Linked DNA regions of Homo sapiens: region 1 is linked to region 2. Evidence: fine-mapped expression QTL. Tissue or cell type: whole blood. Region 2 holds a variant in brackets; the other region holds the start of a gene. All regions are shown on one strand. Distances are between the middles of the regions.

Region 1 (8,100 bases), 870 kb before region 2:
GATCCACCCACCGTGGCTTCCCAAAGTCTTGGGGTTACAGGCATGAACCACTGTGCTCAGCTTATATTATTATTTCTTGAACTATGTTATCAAAATGAAAACACACAATTTAAAGATTCTTGTGTAGACTTGCGGATTCCTAAAAATACCAGAATAAGTCCATGAATCCCAATTTGAAGACAACGAGCTAAACCCATAATTTTTTTTTATATTAAATAGAAAGACTAGATCCTAAGAACTATGAGGCCATGGCCTTTTTTACATACCAGTGTATTACCCTGCTCCTAGTAAAGTGCTTGGCACATAGTAAGCACTCAAAAAATTAAAAAATACAGACCCTGAATTCTGAAGACTGGCATTCAAAACTTAGATATCCCACTAATTACCTGGAGAAACCTTGGCCAAGTCAATTACTCTTATCCTCAGTTTCCTCGCATGAAAATGGAAATGCTATTATAGGCTTAACAGGGTTGTTGGGAAGATGACTTGAGAAAAGTAAGATACAGCAAAGCCTTGCCTTACCGATAAAAGTCACTCTCTGGGTCACTGTGCCGGATCTGGAATGGTGCATTGGGATTCTTACAATCTAAAGGCAGGAGGTCATCAGGGAGAGGAGGTGACCCAGGGCACGAGGGAAGAGGTTCACTCTCTTCAGTTTTTACACCTTCTGTCTGCTGCTGATTCTGGGCCTGAGCTGTGGCAATAAGGTTGCGAAGACGTCGGTTGTGCTGAATCAACTGAATCGTATGGATGGTGAGACTACATGGCTCTGAGGGGATGTCCAGCATAGTGGGGGGCTTCGGCTTGTTGGCTGAGGGTTGGTGCAGGGGTGGGTCATGGACTTCCACCAGACGGAACTCCCGTGGGAGCAAATCGAAGGAACTTCTGTTGGTCTGGCTTGATGATATTGGTATCTCTCCCCAGTATCTCAACATTTTGGAATAAGAAGAGAAGAGGTCTCAGGATAAATGTAGACAATAACCTAAAAGTAATGTGTTTAAATCCTGGCAACTTTAGATTATAGGCTTCTGTAGTGAAAAATACGAGGTCTAGCCAGTTATTTATGTAAAAAGTAGGCTATTTGTGACCACTTAGAAAAATGTCAGTGTCAGCAAAACTGTAGGACCAAAGGTGTTCTCCCTAAATAAATTAAGAGAAATGTAACTGTTAGATGCTGGTTATTGTCATACTATGACAATTCCTACTACACTGAACCACAGGGTAGAATTTGGGTCATTAGTGGACCAATAGCTACAACAGCATCTGGAGCTCTAGTATCCCTATTTCCCATCTCACTCACTAACTCATTACCAGAACTACCATCACGCTCAATCCTGAACAATAAGCAAGGCATGATAAGGTATCTTGATACATCTGTGCTGGATCAATAGGAGAAAAACTAGTAGGGTTAAAGATAATAAGAAGTGGTTCTTACTCTGTGTGTCTTAGGCATGATCCTGGTGGAAAAATTTATGAACCATTAATCTAAATGGCATTATGCTTTCAACTTTTGACATATAGAACGTGAGAGATTTCTGCTGCCTTCTAACTGGTATCCCTTCCTCCAATCTCTCTTTGTATGTCATCTATTCTCTACACTGCTGCTAGACTTACTCTTTTTAAAACTTAAATCAAATGGCTTCCCATTGCCTATTGGAAAAAGTCAGAATTCCTTGGCTTACCATTCAACAAAATTCACAATCTGGTTTCAACTCACCTTTGCAGATTCATTGTCCATATGTCTCTTCAAGTTCAACAAACATTTATCAAATGCCAGGCATTCTGTGTCGGTCAAAGACTGATAATGTGAGATCCTTGCCCTGAAGTGAGGAAGAGAAACAGAAGCAGAATATTTCAATATGAAACATGGTAAGTACTGTTCTAGAGGTATATGGACCTGGGGTACTGGAAGCACAAAGGAGGAGCTTCCTGGGTGAAATGACTACCTTTGTTCTAACAACATTATACTACTCAGTTTCTTGAGAATGCTGTACATTTCCACAATTGACACTTTCAGCTGTGAACTCTGCCAGAAATGCTCTGCCAACCTTGCACATCCCTGGCAGACTCATATTCATTTTTAAGTACAGCATAAGTCCCCACCGTCCGTCACTTCACCAGTGCATCTCCCTTTCTCTATTCTCACAGTGCTTTGCAAGTCTATGTCACAGCAGTTATCCTTGGATTTTAATTAGTACTTATCGCAATAGATTTTTTCTGCCCGTCTATTTCTTATGGCTGTGGTCTTGTTACAGGGCCAGGCACACAGAAATATCTGGCATTTGTTGAATGTTTACTATATGCCAGACTTCACCTTTTTTGTTTGTTTCTTTTTTGAGACAGGGTTTCACTCTGTAGCCCAGGCTGGAGTGCAGTGGTGCAGTCATGGTTCACTGCAGCCTCAACCTCCTGGGACCAAGCAATCCTCCCACCTCAGCCTCTGGAGTAGCTGGGACTACAGGCGCGCACCATCAAACCTGGATTTTTTCTTTTTTTTTTTTTTTTTTGGCGAGACAGGGTCTCGCCATGTTGCCCAGCCTCCTCTGGAACTCCTGGGCTCAAGCAATCCTCCCGCCTCAGCCTCCCAAAATGTTGGGATTACAGGCATGAGCCACCGGTCTGGCTGGCCTTTATTGTTTGATTCAATTCTTCCAACAACCCTATGAGGCTAATAATCTTATCCCCATTTTTCAGAGTGAGGGCTGAGGCCTAGTGTCTTGCCCAATGTCACAAATGGCGAGGTCAAAAATCGACAGTCTCCAGAGTCTGCTCTCTTAACCACTTAACTATTCTGCCTTAATAATTTCAGAAAAAAAATAAATGAATGAACGAAATAACAAAAAAGTCGCCCTCTTCCCTTACTTTACCGAAAGGAGCACGAAGAACAGGCACGGAGCCCAAGGAATGCCCAAGTCCCTCCAGGGGTTTCCTCGGTCACGGTCCGCCGGCGCAGGCGCCAATCACAGGGTCCTGAGGTCGCCTGACGTTCAGGGCAGCCGGAAGACGGGGAGGTCTGGACCTGAACCGAGACAAGGAGGTACCACACTATTCACTGCTGCGTCGCAGAGCGGGCTGGGCGGCTGTCTGGACCTCGAGAGGCCTGAGGCAAGGATCGCGTCAGACCCCGAAAGCTGGTTTGTTGATTAGTGATCTAAGACCGCCGGAAGCGCTTCTTCTCAATCAAGCTATGCAACAGGAAGTCATTACGATCCCGTTGTAACCTCTAAATATGTCCCCGTTCTGCACAGCATCCCGATAACCGTTTTGTTTTTCTCATATTATGACCTTCTCATGTTAGCACCACTTCGCAACGCTCCAGGTCGTGAAGGAGCAACTTCACCATCGCCGCCTACAGACGCCACTGGGAGCTTGGGAGAGTGGGACGTGGACAGGAACGTAAAGACCGAAGGGTGGGTTTCGAAGGAGCGGATTTCGAAGTTGCACCGGTTGAGGATGGCTGACATTCTCTCTCAGTCAGAGACCCTGGCGTCGCAAGACCTCAGTGGGGACTTCAAGAAGCCAGCTCTGCCGGTGTCCCCAGCGGCGCGGAGTAAGGCCCCGGCCAGCAGTTCTTCAAACCCTGAGGAGGTACAGAAGGAAGGGCCCACTGCGTTGCAGGACTCCAATTCTGGGGAGCCCGACATCCCTCCTCCTCAGCCGGACTGCGGTGATTTTAGGAGTCTACAGGAGGAGCAGTCGCGCCCCCCGACAGCGGTTTCTTCCCCTGGCGGTCCAGCCCGGGCTCCCCCCTACCAAGAGCCTCCATGGGGTGGCCCTGCCACAGCCCCCTACAGCTTAGAGACCCTGAAGGGCGGCACTATCCTTGGCACCCGTAGCTTGAAAGGGACGAGTTACTGCCTTTTCGGGAGGCTGTCTGGCTGCGACGTGTGCCTGGAGCACCCTTCGGTGTCTCGGTACCACGCAGTGCTGCAGCACAGGGCGTCCGGCCCTGACGGAGAATGCGACAGCAACGGGCCGGGCTTCTACCTCTACGATCTGGGAAGCACCCATGGCACTTTTCTCAACAAAACTCGCATCCCACCTCGCACCTACTGTCGAGTCCACGTTGGGCATGTTGTTCGCTTTGGAGGCAGCACCCGGCTCTTTATCCTGCAGGTAGGTAGAAAAACCTAGAATTGAAATTTCGGGTTCATTGGACTGCGTTCTTGTGCTTCTTAAGCTTTGGATGAGGAAGAAGAATCTCCCACTCAGCGATTACGAAAGTGAAGGAATCAAGTCTGGCCTATCATCTTCAGACGGCTGTACACATTGCTATATTTCTGAAAGTCATGTTCACAATCCCGAACTCTAAAATAACTTGTTTGGCCAGGCGCGGTGGCTCGCGCCTGTAATCCCAACACTTTGGGAGGCCCAGGCGGGAGGATCGCTTTAGCCCAGGAGTTTGAGAGGAGGCTGGGCAACATGGCAAGACCCTGTCTCTTAAAAAAAAAAAAAAAAATTAGCCAGGCATCATGGTCCCAGCTGCTCAGGAGGCTGAGGTGGGAGGATCACCTGAGCCCAGGAGGTCAAGGCTGCAGTGAGGTGTATTACAGCCACTGCACTCCAGTCCAGCCTAGGCGACAGAGCAAGACCCTGTCTCTAAATAAATAAATAACCTTTTTTTCCTTGGTTCATCAGGGACCAGAGGAAGACCGAGAGGCAGAATCCGAGTTAACAGTAACACAGTTGAAGGAATTGCGCAAGCAGCAGCAAATATTGTTGGAGAAGAAGATGCTAGGAGAAGACTCAGATGAAGAAGAGGAAATGGATACCTCTGAAAGGAAGATAAATGCTGGTAGCCAAGATGATGAGATGGGTTGCACCTGGGGAATGGGTAAGAAATTAAAATTGCTGCCGGAGGTTAATATTTTAAGTTCATTACAAGTGGTACCCTTAAATGTTTTTTTAAATCATACAGCTTTTCATGGCTCCTTGAGATAGATAGGGCAAACACAATTTGCACATGAGGTAACCAAAACCCAGAGAGATTCACTGACTTTACTGTTGTAAAGAAATTGACTTATAGGCACTTTGGATTTTTTAAAAATTTATTTTTAATGCACTCTCTTGTTCAAAACTTGTCCTAAGCATAAAATTATTATTTTTACAATTCTAAAATTTTATATTTATTAAGTACTGACCTTGTGCTATGTGATTATCATTGGAGGGGATGGAACTCTATTCAATCAAATAAATGGGATGTTATTCAATATAGGATATTCTCTTGAATTTTTTGTACTTTGTGAAGATATCCTGAAATGTGGAATATCTAATCAGATAAAGCTGGTCCCTTAGCCAAAATAATAAACTTTCTTTAACACCAGATATTTTAGAAAATGGATATTCAGGAGATGGGAGTATAAAAAGGTAGAAGATGGCATTAATATATAGTTGGGAAGATAGGAAAAATTATGAAATTACTTGTGCTAAGTGCCAAACAAAAGCTAGAAACCATAAGTATGCTAGAGTGAAAGTTTGGAGAAGAGAGAACAGTCACTGGGGACTTAGACCTGTGTTGTCTGATATGGTAGCCACTAGCCACATGTGGTTACTGAGCACTTGCAGTGTGGCTAGTTGCAATTGATGTGTGCTGTAAATGCAAAATACACACTGAATTTCAAAGACTTAGTCTGAAAAAAAGAATGTAAAATATCTCTTTCATGATATTTTTATATTGATGACATGTTGAAATGACAATAATTTTACCTGTTTCCTTTTAATTTTTTAATGTGGCTAATAGAAAATTTAAGATGACGCATACAGCTGTCATTATATTTCTGTTGGACAGCACTGACTTAGATCTTTGGGAAACTTAATTTTTTTTATTTTAGTAGAGATGGGGTTTCACCATATTGGCCAGGCTGGTCTTGAACTCCTGACCTTGTGATCCACCCCCCACCCCCCCCCCCCACCCCGCCCCCCGGCCTCCCAAAGTGTAGAGATTACAGGCGTGAGCGATCGCACTCCACAGGGAAGCTTTATGAGCATAAGGATTTTGAGCTGGAACTTGAAGGAAAGGAAAAGCCTTATGAAGCTGAGTATTGGGATTGGTATTCAGGGTAGGAATTGATGATTTTAAGGAAGTTGTGAGTAGACCAGTCTATTTGGCAGATATAAGAAGTATTAGGAAATTATATTGGGAACGAAAGTTAGATATGAGTGTGAGAGAACAAGAATGCCAGGCTGAGGAGCTCAAATTTTTTTTCCACAATGTGGTAGGTAATTTTACTTTTAAAATATAATGATGGAGAAAAAAAAATTAAGGTGCCATGAAAACAAGTTTTGACTTGTCACACAATTTAGAAAACCTGAATATGCTCATACTAGTGGTTTTGTGGTGGTTGTTCCACCCCCTGTCCCTGCAAGTATTTATTATTTTTCATCACAGATAAACTATATATATATATATATTTTTTTTTTTTTGGGAGACGGTCTCACTGTGTTGCTTGGGTTGGAGTGCAGGTAGCGCGATCTTGGCTCACTACAACTTCTTCCTCCCAGGTTCAAGCAATTCTCCTGCCTCAGCCTCCCAAGTAGCTGGGATTACAGACACCCGCCACTGTGCCCAGCTAATTTTTTTTGTATTTTTAGTAGAGATGGGGTTTCACCATGTTGGCCAAGCTGGTCTTGAACTCCTGACCTTGTGATCCACCTGCCTTGGCCTCCCAAAGTGCTGGGATTACAGGCATGAGCCACTGCGCCCAGCCTAAACTATATCTTTATGCAGCCTGAGAGAATAGTGGGTATCATTCAAATAGTCTCTTCTCATGTCTGATTATCTTTTCTTTCTTTTCCATATCCTGTAGGAGAAGATGCAGTAGAGGATGATGCTGAAGAGAACCCTATTGTCTTAGAGTTTCAGCAGGAAAGGGAGGCCTTTTATATAAAGGATCCCAAAAAGGCTCTCCAAGGCTTTTTTGACCGAGAAGGTATGTAAACAGATTCTGACCCTACCACTAAAACATATCCAGAGCAGTGTGGTTTTCTAGAGCTTCATGTTGAGCTTTATACTAAGATATGCTATAATTTTATTGCTGTCCTTCTTGTTCACTTTTTACTCTTGTGGTCAGTTGCTTTAGGTTTATTTTGAAAATTATTCCTCATTAGTATGGCAGAGGGGAAAAAAATCATAAAAATCTTGTTAGTCTTTCTTCTTATCTTAAAAAAAGGAAGTACTTTTTCCTGACTCATCTCATTCTTCTCAAAAGATCCTGGACTTTGGTGGTGGGGAAATTGAGCCAACTTCCTGTAGTTTTTTAATTCCGAATTCACCTGATCTTTTGTAATTCCTAACATAGGTTTTGATTTTATATTATATGATTTAAAATTTTTTTTCCATAGAGGATTGTTTTGGTAGGAATACTTTGAGAGAATATCTATGTATATGTATGTATATCTGTATATATTTTATATGTATATATAAATAATATATGAAATAGCTGTGCACTTAATATCTGTGCTTCTAAAAACCAGGCAACTGTGTTAAAATAACCACTAAAGTCTACAACTTATAAAAGTGAAACATACTATACAGTGAACAGAGCTATGTATGGAGAATTGGTTACTTTGATCTGAGTTTGTTTTTTTCTCTGCCTCAGACTTACTCTAATTTTATTATCAGACAATAATCCCTAGGAATGAGAAGTGAAATGCATTGAAATTTATTATTCAGTGTGGTATGGGAACTTGTTCTTTTTTTTTTTTTGAGACGGAGTCTCGCTCTGTTGCCCAGGCTGGAGTGCAGTGGTGCGATCTCGCCTCACTGCAAGCTCCGCCTTCCGGATTCACGCCATTCTCCTGCGTCAGCCTCCCGAGTAGCTGGGACTACAGGCGCCCGCCACCACGCCCGGCTAATTTTTTTTGTATTTTTAGTAGAGACGGGGTTTCACTGTGTTAGCCAGAATGGTCTCGATCTCCTGACCTCGTGATCCTCCCATCTCGGCCATCCAAAGTGCTGGGATTACAAGCGTGAGCCACCGCGCCCAGCCAGAACTTGTTCTTTTTTTGAGACAGGGTCTCACTCTGTCGCCCAGGCCGGAGTGCAATGGCGCAATCTTGGCTCACTGCAACCTTGACCTCCTGGGTTTAAGCTATGCTCCG
Region 2 (8,105 bases):
TTCAGTGACATTAGATAATTCATAATGTTGTACATATGACATGCATTCATAACTGTCACAAGGAACAGGTGTTTTTTACTTACCATCCCTCATATCAGGAAAAGGAAATAGAGGCATAGATAAGCTGAGTCAACAGTCATTCCGCAACTGAGAAAATTAGCGTCCTAGTTGGTTAAAAACTATCTTGCGTCTTAATTCTGATTTCATGTAAGTTCTGAATTTAGGAAATAAAGCAGGGTGCATACCATCCTCACCCCTTGGCCCATGAATTCTATTTGTGGTGGGAAAGCTGCTGTTTTATTGAAGTAGACTGTATCTTCCAAGTGCTTTGGCTTTTCTGGAAACAGGACATGAAGCGTGTGGTCTCGTTTATTATTTATGTAGGTGAATATCTATGACTTAAGTCTTTATTGAAGATCATTCAGATTAGGATCAGTTGAAAGTGTAAGGGGTGGTTTAGAAATCTAAGCCATGGTGAAATAAATGGCACCTGGACTCTTCTTCAGGATCCTGAAGACTGGCTGCTGCCACACTGTCCCTGCCACTTGTGGGACCAGCTTGTCCTCTTCGCCACCCTCCAGGCCAGGGCACAGGCATGGTGGAGCTTCTGGAGGTGGTGGTTTCTTTTCTGTGCCCCTCTCCTACAGTAGATACTCTTGCCTTCCTTCAAGTGCGCCACACTCCCACTGACTCCAGGCTCACCGTCAGAACTCCCCTTCCTTTAGTGATGTCAAGCCTTGGAAGAACATTGATGGAAATCCACCTTCCTGACTAGCTCTCATTGGCCAATATTCCTGTAGCCTTCCTGGGTTTTTAGCATATAGATAATGAAGATTTATTGTTCCAGTTTACCCTCTGTTTTCTCCAGTGCCGAGTGAAATTTACGTGCCTCATTTGTTCTCTCCACAGCCCCCCTTTTTGGTCATTATGCATTACTTCATGAATGTATGCATTCATGCATTGACATGCTCAAGCATTTAGACATTGGTGCATTGCTCTCTGTACTCATTAATCCATGACATTAACTCATGCATTTATGCAGTCACGCACTGAAGTGTTCAAGCATTTAGATATTGCTGCATTCTTCTATGTATTCACTAATAGAATCATTCATCCATAAGTTATATTCATGTATAAATTCATTTTCTCATCTTACATGCAGACATATGCTATTGTATTTGTGATCAGTTTGTTCATGATAGCATATGATTTTTTAAAATGTATGAATGCATTTATGAATACTTAGACTCATCAATGATTTTTCCATATACTTCATCTTGTGTTTAAACATTCCTACATAAATTCTTGCATGCTTTCATGTATTTATGCCTTCAAACATTCTTGAATACATGTTGTATTCTTGTGCACATGTATTCAACTACATGTTATTTGTATTTTTAGTTATGCAAGCAATACACAAATATTTTCCTTCTAAAAACTAAAACATCAGTTAAAGCTAAAATATGTATCCTTTTGGCCACCTCCCTAATCCTCTGTCTCTTTTTCTTTGCAAACCTCTTACATATCTATAAATCCAAGCCTTATTTTGTGTGCTTGTATGTATGAGAGAGATTTAATATAGTGTTATATTGTATGTACTACTGAACAGTTTTTTTCACTAACCAAGTATTGTTGAGATCTAGTCATGTTGACATATATGGAATGAGTTTATTTCTCTTCCATGAGTATTTTGCTGTGTAAATTTACTACATTTTATTTCACCATTTTCCTATACTGATGGCCATGTAGGTATTTCTAGTTTTTCACTATTATAAACAATGCTACAATGAACAGTCTTGCTCATTTACTTGACTATGTGGAAGAGTTTTCCTAGATACAGTGATTTTCAAATTGTGGACTGAAGTACATTAGTGAGTCAAAAAATCAATTTAAAGGATTGCAACCAACATTGTAAAAAAAATAGAATAGAATAAACTCTAAAATCCTCGAGTTCATTGCATGTAGTAAGGTAAGTATTGGTTCATGAGATTTTTGCATCATTTCTATATGGATACTTGTACTGGATTGGGACGTGAAACACATCTCACACTGTGGGTCAAGATAAAAACAGCCTCAAGAGCTGGGCGCGGTGGCTCACGCCTGTAATCCCAGCACTTTAGGAGGCCGAGGCAGGTGGATCACAAGGTTAGGAGTTTGAGACCAGCCTGGCCAATATGGTGAAACCCCATCTGTACTAAAAATACAAAAATTAGCCGGGCTTGGTGGCAGGCACCTGTAGTCCCAGCTACTCGGGAGGCTGAGGCAGGAGAATCACTTGAACCCAGGAGACAGAGGTTGCAGTGAGCCAAGATCGCACTACTGCACTCCAGCCTGGGTGACAGAGAGAGACTCTGTCTCAAAAGAAAATAAAAAAAAAAGAAAAGAAAAAAACAGTCTCAAGAAAAGCGCCTGGAGTAGATTCTTATACCAGTCTTTAGGTGCGCACATTTTGGGTTTTAATAGGCTCTGCCTCCTAATTGCCCTCCAAAGTGGCTGAACTCTCATATTTCCACCAGTGGCAGTGAGCACCTATTCTCTACAACCTTCCCAACACTTGTTCTCAGACTTAATGATTTTTGTCAACATGAGAAATTCCTGCAAGATCTAGTCATGTTGATGACATATGAATTGAGTTTATTCACACTTAGAAGCTCACACTTTTAATTGGTTCAAAACATATGACAAAAGTAATCATGCCTCCTCATTTTTAAACAGCTGTAAACCAATAACATGATGTCCATAAATTTAGCTAATTACAGCAACACCAGCTAGCTTCCACTCAAATTCCCTCTTTATTCTATTTCTTCTTCCATCTTGATTTTTCCTATTGCACAAAAACCACCAAGGCTTTGATGCCTGGAATAAATCTCACCTCCACTTCCACTTACCCCAGAGGCCCTGTGGCTCCTAGGCCTGGCTCCTTTGGCCTCCTGGCCAGGCCTGCTGGTGTTGCCCTTCTCACAGCCCAGACCCACACTCACCTCCTAGTGGTACCTCTGGCCACACCTCCCCGTTTAAGCTAATCCTGTGGTGTAGCTCAGCATCCTTGTTTGAGAAGTTCTTACGTGGCATTTTTATTTTTCTGAAAGCACATCTCAGGTATAAGCTCTCCCTCGGTGGTTGTAAAAATGTGCTCTGTAGATGGCCGGGCATGGTGGCTCATGCTTGTAATCTCAGAACTTTGGGAGGCCAAGGCAGGTGGATCACTTGAGGTTAGGAGTTCAAGACCAGCCTGGCCAATGTGGTGAAACCCTGTCTCTACCAAAAATACAAAAATTAGCTGGGTGTGGTGGTGCATGCCTGTAGTCCTAGCTACTCGGGAGGCTGAGGCAACAGAATCACTAAACCCAGGAAGTGGAGGCTGCAGTGAGCTGAGATCATGCCACTGCACTCTAGCCTGAGCAACAGAGTGAGACTCTGTCTTTAAAAACAAAACAAAACAAAACAAATGCTCTGTAGAGACCCAGGGGCCACTGGAGATCCCTCTGTGGGCATATGTTGAGAAGGTGGGCACCAGCTGCCACCTGACTTTACAGAGCAGGTGTCAAGGGTTTCCTAAAAGTTCACACGAGAAAAACATGTTTTACCCTTAAGAGGAAATGTTGAGCTACTGTCCTGCCCCAACTTAGGACCTGAATTCTCTTCCCCTGTGGAGACCTTTGGGCTCATTTAATGGGAAATAAACAAGGGCCTGTGTCCACAGTTGTTCTTTAGGAGTTTCTTATGACCAAAGTCAGAGAGTCAAGTCAGCAACTATCCATTAGGTGTGACAATGACTCTGAAGGCAGGTGCTTTGGAGGTAAATGATGAGCTGGCTCACAGCAGTGACCTGAGGATGCTTTTTGGATCTGGACACTTGCTTACTGCTCTCTAGTTAAATTTGGCTTTATTAATTAGTAAGATTTTAAAAATCAGAAGAAAAAATGAAAAAAAGAGCTGATTACAAGAAAACAGACACATTTATCCCTTGTAAACGTCTCTAGCTACAGGTGGCAGCCTTTTGGAGGGTACACTGGTGTGTGATTCAAGAAACCTAAACGTGTTTCTAGTTTTTGACTGAATAATATCCCATTCCTTGGTTTAAATCCCAATAAAATAATTTATTAGAAAGAGTTAAGTTGGGTCTCAGGCACGTGTTTGATAATAGACATTCTTCCAAACCAGGGGGCAAACGATACACATGGAAATGTACAAGTTCATTTGAAGAAATCAGCTTTTTCCTGACTTTGGGTTCTAGGAGTTTATTATGTATGACCTTATAGAGGAGGGACATCTTATAGGAGCATAATGTCTTTTACTGAGAAATGGGGACAGTTGGTGTCCCGAGCGACAACCATGCAGTGCCTGGAATGACTGGGTGGGCCCCAATTCCCTCTGCAGCTGCAAGTAAACACCTTGACCAGGGGTTTCTACAGCAAGATTCACACTCTAGAGAGAGCCACACAGGGTCCCCCGCCTCTCCAGGGACGGTGGGTATGGTTCAGATGGGCAGCGAGGATGCCTCTAGACAGAGTTCCCCTGGGCTCTTCAGGAAAGAGAGGGTGATGTTTGATGTCACGGTCAGGGAGCAGCTCACTTAGGAGAAAACTAGACAGAAGGCTTTACGGTAACAGACCTGGCTGACCCGGCCTCCCAGAAGCCAGCCTCACACCAAAGCAGGGACAGCCGGTGAAGGGGCAGAGAAACAGGGA[C/T]ACTGCATTTCCTCCTGTGTGGTGCCAGCCCAGGTGATTGACAGCTGTCTCCAGAGTCACTGCCTGTGTCCCCTCCGGGAAACAGAACAGCTCCTTGGCCTTCCTTGTCTTCCTGTCTGAGCCAAGTTGCCTTAGGGGACAGCCAGTCTGCTGTTTGTTAGGGGACAAACTTAGAAGTTTGTCTTGTAATTTTTATTATTTTTCACATTGAAAAGGTAAAGCAGGCATGAGCCACTGCACCCAGCCTGTAATCCAGCACTTTGGGAGGCCGAGGTAGGTGGATCATTTGAGGTCAGGAGTTTGAGACCAGCCTGGCCAACATGGTGAAACCCTGTCTCTACTAAAAATACAAAAATTAGCTGGGCATGGTGGCGGGCGCCTGTAATCCCAGCTACTCAGGAGGTGGAGGTTGCACTGAGCCGAGATCACACCACTGCACTCCAACCTGGGCAAAAGAGCGAGACTCCATCTCAAAAAAAAAAAAAAAAAAAAAAAGGTAAAGCAGGGTCCGTTTTTGAGGTCCTTCATTTGTTGATTTTCATGACCTGCAGGAAGGGGAGTGGTGTGTGTGTTGGGTGCGTGGGAGATGTCTTTAAATACTCAGGTGGCAGGACCCACTCATACTCTTTCTCTAGGAATGCTTATCTTAGGGCAAACACAGCAAGAGAAAAGCTAATAAAATAGGATCACATGAAGGTTCCGAGGCCCATCTGGGGCCTTAAATACAGGGTTAATTGTATTTCCCTGTTGGACCTGATTTTCTTTGGGAAAAAGCGATTCCTCAAGTCTTTGGGAGTAAGTCTCCTGTCCCTCAGTGTGAGCTTCAGAATCACACCAGGTATTTCTGATCTTGCTCTGACTTTGAGTTTGCCCTTTCCTGATGGAACTTTTCACCTGTGGGGAGTTTGGTTTTTCCCAGGTGGATGATGGGTTGGGGAGAAAATAGAAGAACAAAATGAAGACAAAACTAGGAAGCTCTGGGAATTCTGTCCTCCTTTGTGGAATGCCAGGTCTAGATGGTGCCTTTGCCTGTGGTCTTGCCTGGCAGGGATGGGCCTGTTGTGAGTCTGGGTGGCCTCACCTCGTGGTCCTCCTGCAGGCACCCTCACTTAGCACGGTTCTCCTCTCACAGAATGGGCTTGCGGCGGGCGGCGTGGATGAGCTGATGGGGGTGCTGGACTACCTGCAGCAGGAGGTGAGGCCACGGGCCTAGGGCTTCCCCAAGGGCAGTGGGGCCCATTTACCCTCATGTGGCCTCCACCGGGGTGGGGAAATGGACCCCTGTGAGGGAGACTGGGACCCTCGGGAAAGGGGAAACTTTAGAGCACCCCATCTTCTCATCCTTTCAAATGAGAACATGGGCCAGGAGAGCACACTCCACTCCTGCAAAGGAAACTTCTGAGAGAAACTCGGCTCTTCCTTGAGTCCTCGGTGGCCCTGCTCTTCCCTAAGGCCTCTCTCTACCTGAGACTGGGGCGAGGATAAGATGGAGGGGGCCTGAGGACCTTCAAGACCTTTCTGCTCAGTGACCGTGATGCTGCTGCAGGGTCTGAGAATCAGCTGGGGGTTGCTGTGGCCCTGCCTTCCGCTTTGCTCCCCTGGAGGGCAGCTTTCTGCTGGAGGAGGCTGCAGGCCCATAGCCCCAGTGGTCTCCCTCCCCTGTGGACACTGGTGGGAGGCGCCCCGCCCACCGTGAGGGACAGAGAGTCCTGTTTCTGGATGGCACAGATGCAGGGCTGGCAGCGCAGACTGACCCTGACCAAACATCTCCCAAAGGATCAGGCCCAGTTAACCAAGGGGAGGCCCATCACACTCAACCACACCCCAACGGGGCCCAAGCAGGAGTTCCAGAAAGCCCGGCAGCCATGGCGACTTGGCAAATACTCACCTCCCTCTCTGTGTGTCCTCCTAGGTCCCCAGAGCATTTGTAAACCTGGTGGACCTCTCTGAGGTTGCAGAGGTCTCTCGTCAGTATCACGGCACTTGGCTCAGGTAAAAGGGGAAGTGGAATGAGACACGCATCTGTGACACGGCTGTCACGTGTGCGGCCTGTGGGGGCCCTTCATGTGCCGTAATCTATGAGGGAGCCCTAAAGAACAGAGGCCAAAGGAGGCCGAGAAACACATGCGAGCTCACACCCGAGCGAGTGGCAGAGTCGGGGTGGGGTGGGCCCTCTGCCAAGCATTGTTTTGGGGACTGAGTCAAAGAATAAAATACTTTATTCTTTTATTCTGGTTGATGTTGTGCCAGAGGCTCTCCTCAGTGCCAGAGTGATTTCAGAGTTCGCCTTGGCAAAACATCCATAAGCTAAGAAGTGTTACTTCTGGAAATTGGATAGAAAAACGTAGCCTAAATGTAGTTTAACTTCACAGAACTTGATTCCTATATATTTCTGAAAATGTTCATAGACTTTAAACTTTTTGGAGCCAAATCCTAAGAATTCTGGCTCTGGACCTAGAAAAGAAGTTCATGTGGAAAAAGTCAGGGCAAGGGCGGTGGAGAAAAGAGAGTGCTGGAAAGGAGAGAAGTGGGGTGCTGGGGAAGGAGGGCTCTGAAGAGGATGCAAGACAGAGAAGGTACAGGGGAGGGAAAGGGGAATGGGATGTGGGTGTCTGGTGTGAAGAACAGTGAGCGGGGAGGAGGAGGACTGAGAGATGAAGGGGGAGAAAGAGCTTCCCTCTATCCCATAGTCACCCCCTAGGAAGAGCTTTCCTCCATTCCATATCTACCCCCCAGGAAAAGCTTCCCTCTATCCCATAGCCACCCTCCAGGGAGAGCTTCCCTCCATCCCATACCCACCCCCCAGGGAGAGCTTCCCTCCATCCCATACCTACCCCCCAGGGAGAGCTTCCCTCCATCCCATACCTACCCCCTAACCCATACCCACCCCCTAGGGAGAGCTTCCCTCCATCCCATATCGACCCCCTAGGAAGAACGTCCCTCCATCCAATACCCACCCCCCAGGAACAGCTTCCCTCCATCCCATACCCAACCCCCAAGAAGGGACCACCCACCCTCTATTCTTCTCAACATTTATGTCCTCTAAGACTTATGCTTCTTCATCCCTACTCCTTAAGCAACTCCTATGCCCCTTCTTCCATAAGAGGCGGGCTGGATGCATCCCCTTCCCTGCCCACACTGCCTCCCCTCTCTCATTCCTGGTGTGTTTTAACCTGCAGCCCTGCACCAGAGCCCTGTAATTGCTCAGAGGAGACCACCCGGCTGGCCAAGGTGGTGATGCAGTGGTCTTATCAGGTGAGCCCAACCTGGGATCCCAAGCTGCTGGCTCACCGGGGTGGCGTGGTCGCCAAGGAGAACAGGAGTGATAGGGACAATTAGTTGAGTTTGCTAATGTTAGGACTTCTCCAGCTGAATTCAGGACTAAGTCAGGAGCAAAGAGAGCTACTCTTGCTT

What was found. PIP is the estimated chance that this variant, and not a neighbour inherited with it, causes the effect.
Region 1: it holds the start of SUPT7L, and the variant in region 2 is fine-mapped to the expression of SUPT7L in whole blood (TOPMed, PIP 0.92).

The regions. Positions count from the first base shown.
Region 1 is chr2:27,660,462-27,668,561 of GRCh38, forward strand. SUPT7L (SPT7 like, STAGA complex subunit gamma) reads right to left here and starts at 3,153. Exons shown (of 6, transcript NM_014860.3): 1 at 2,868-3,153; 2 at 1,718-1,820; 3 at 523-927. The coding sequence starts at 1,731. It overlaps SLC4A1AP (solute carrier family 4 member 1 adaptor protein), which reads left to right and starts at 3,428. Exons shown (of 14, transcript NM_018158.3): 1 at 3,428-4,116; 2 at 4,639-4,834; 3 at 6,807-6,929. The coding sequence starts at 3,454.
Region 2 is chr2:28,532,496-28,540,600 of GRCh38, forward strand. It overlaps PLB1 (phospholipase B1), which reads left to right. Exons shown (of 58, transcript NM_153021.5): 10 at 5,824-5,886; 11 at 6,604-6,683; 12 at 7,871-7,946. Among named protein-coding and RNA genes, the nearest start is that of PLB1, 40 kb to the left of the region's middle. RefSeq lists a silencer at 6,727-7,021. The variant C/T (reference allele first, on the strand shown) is at 4,692.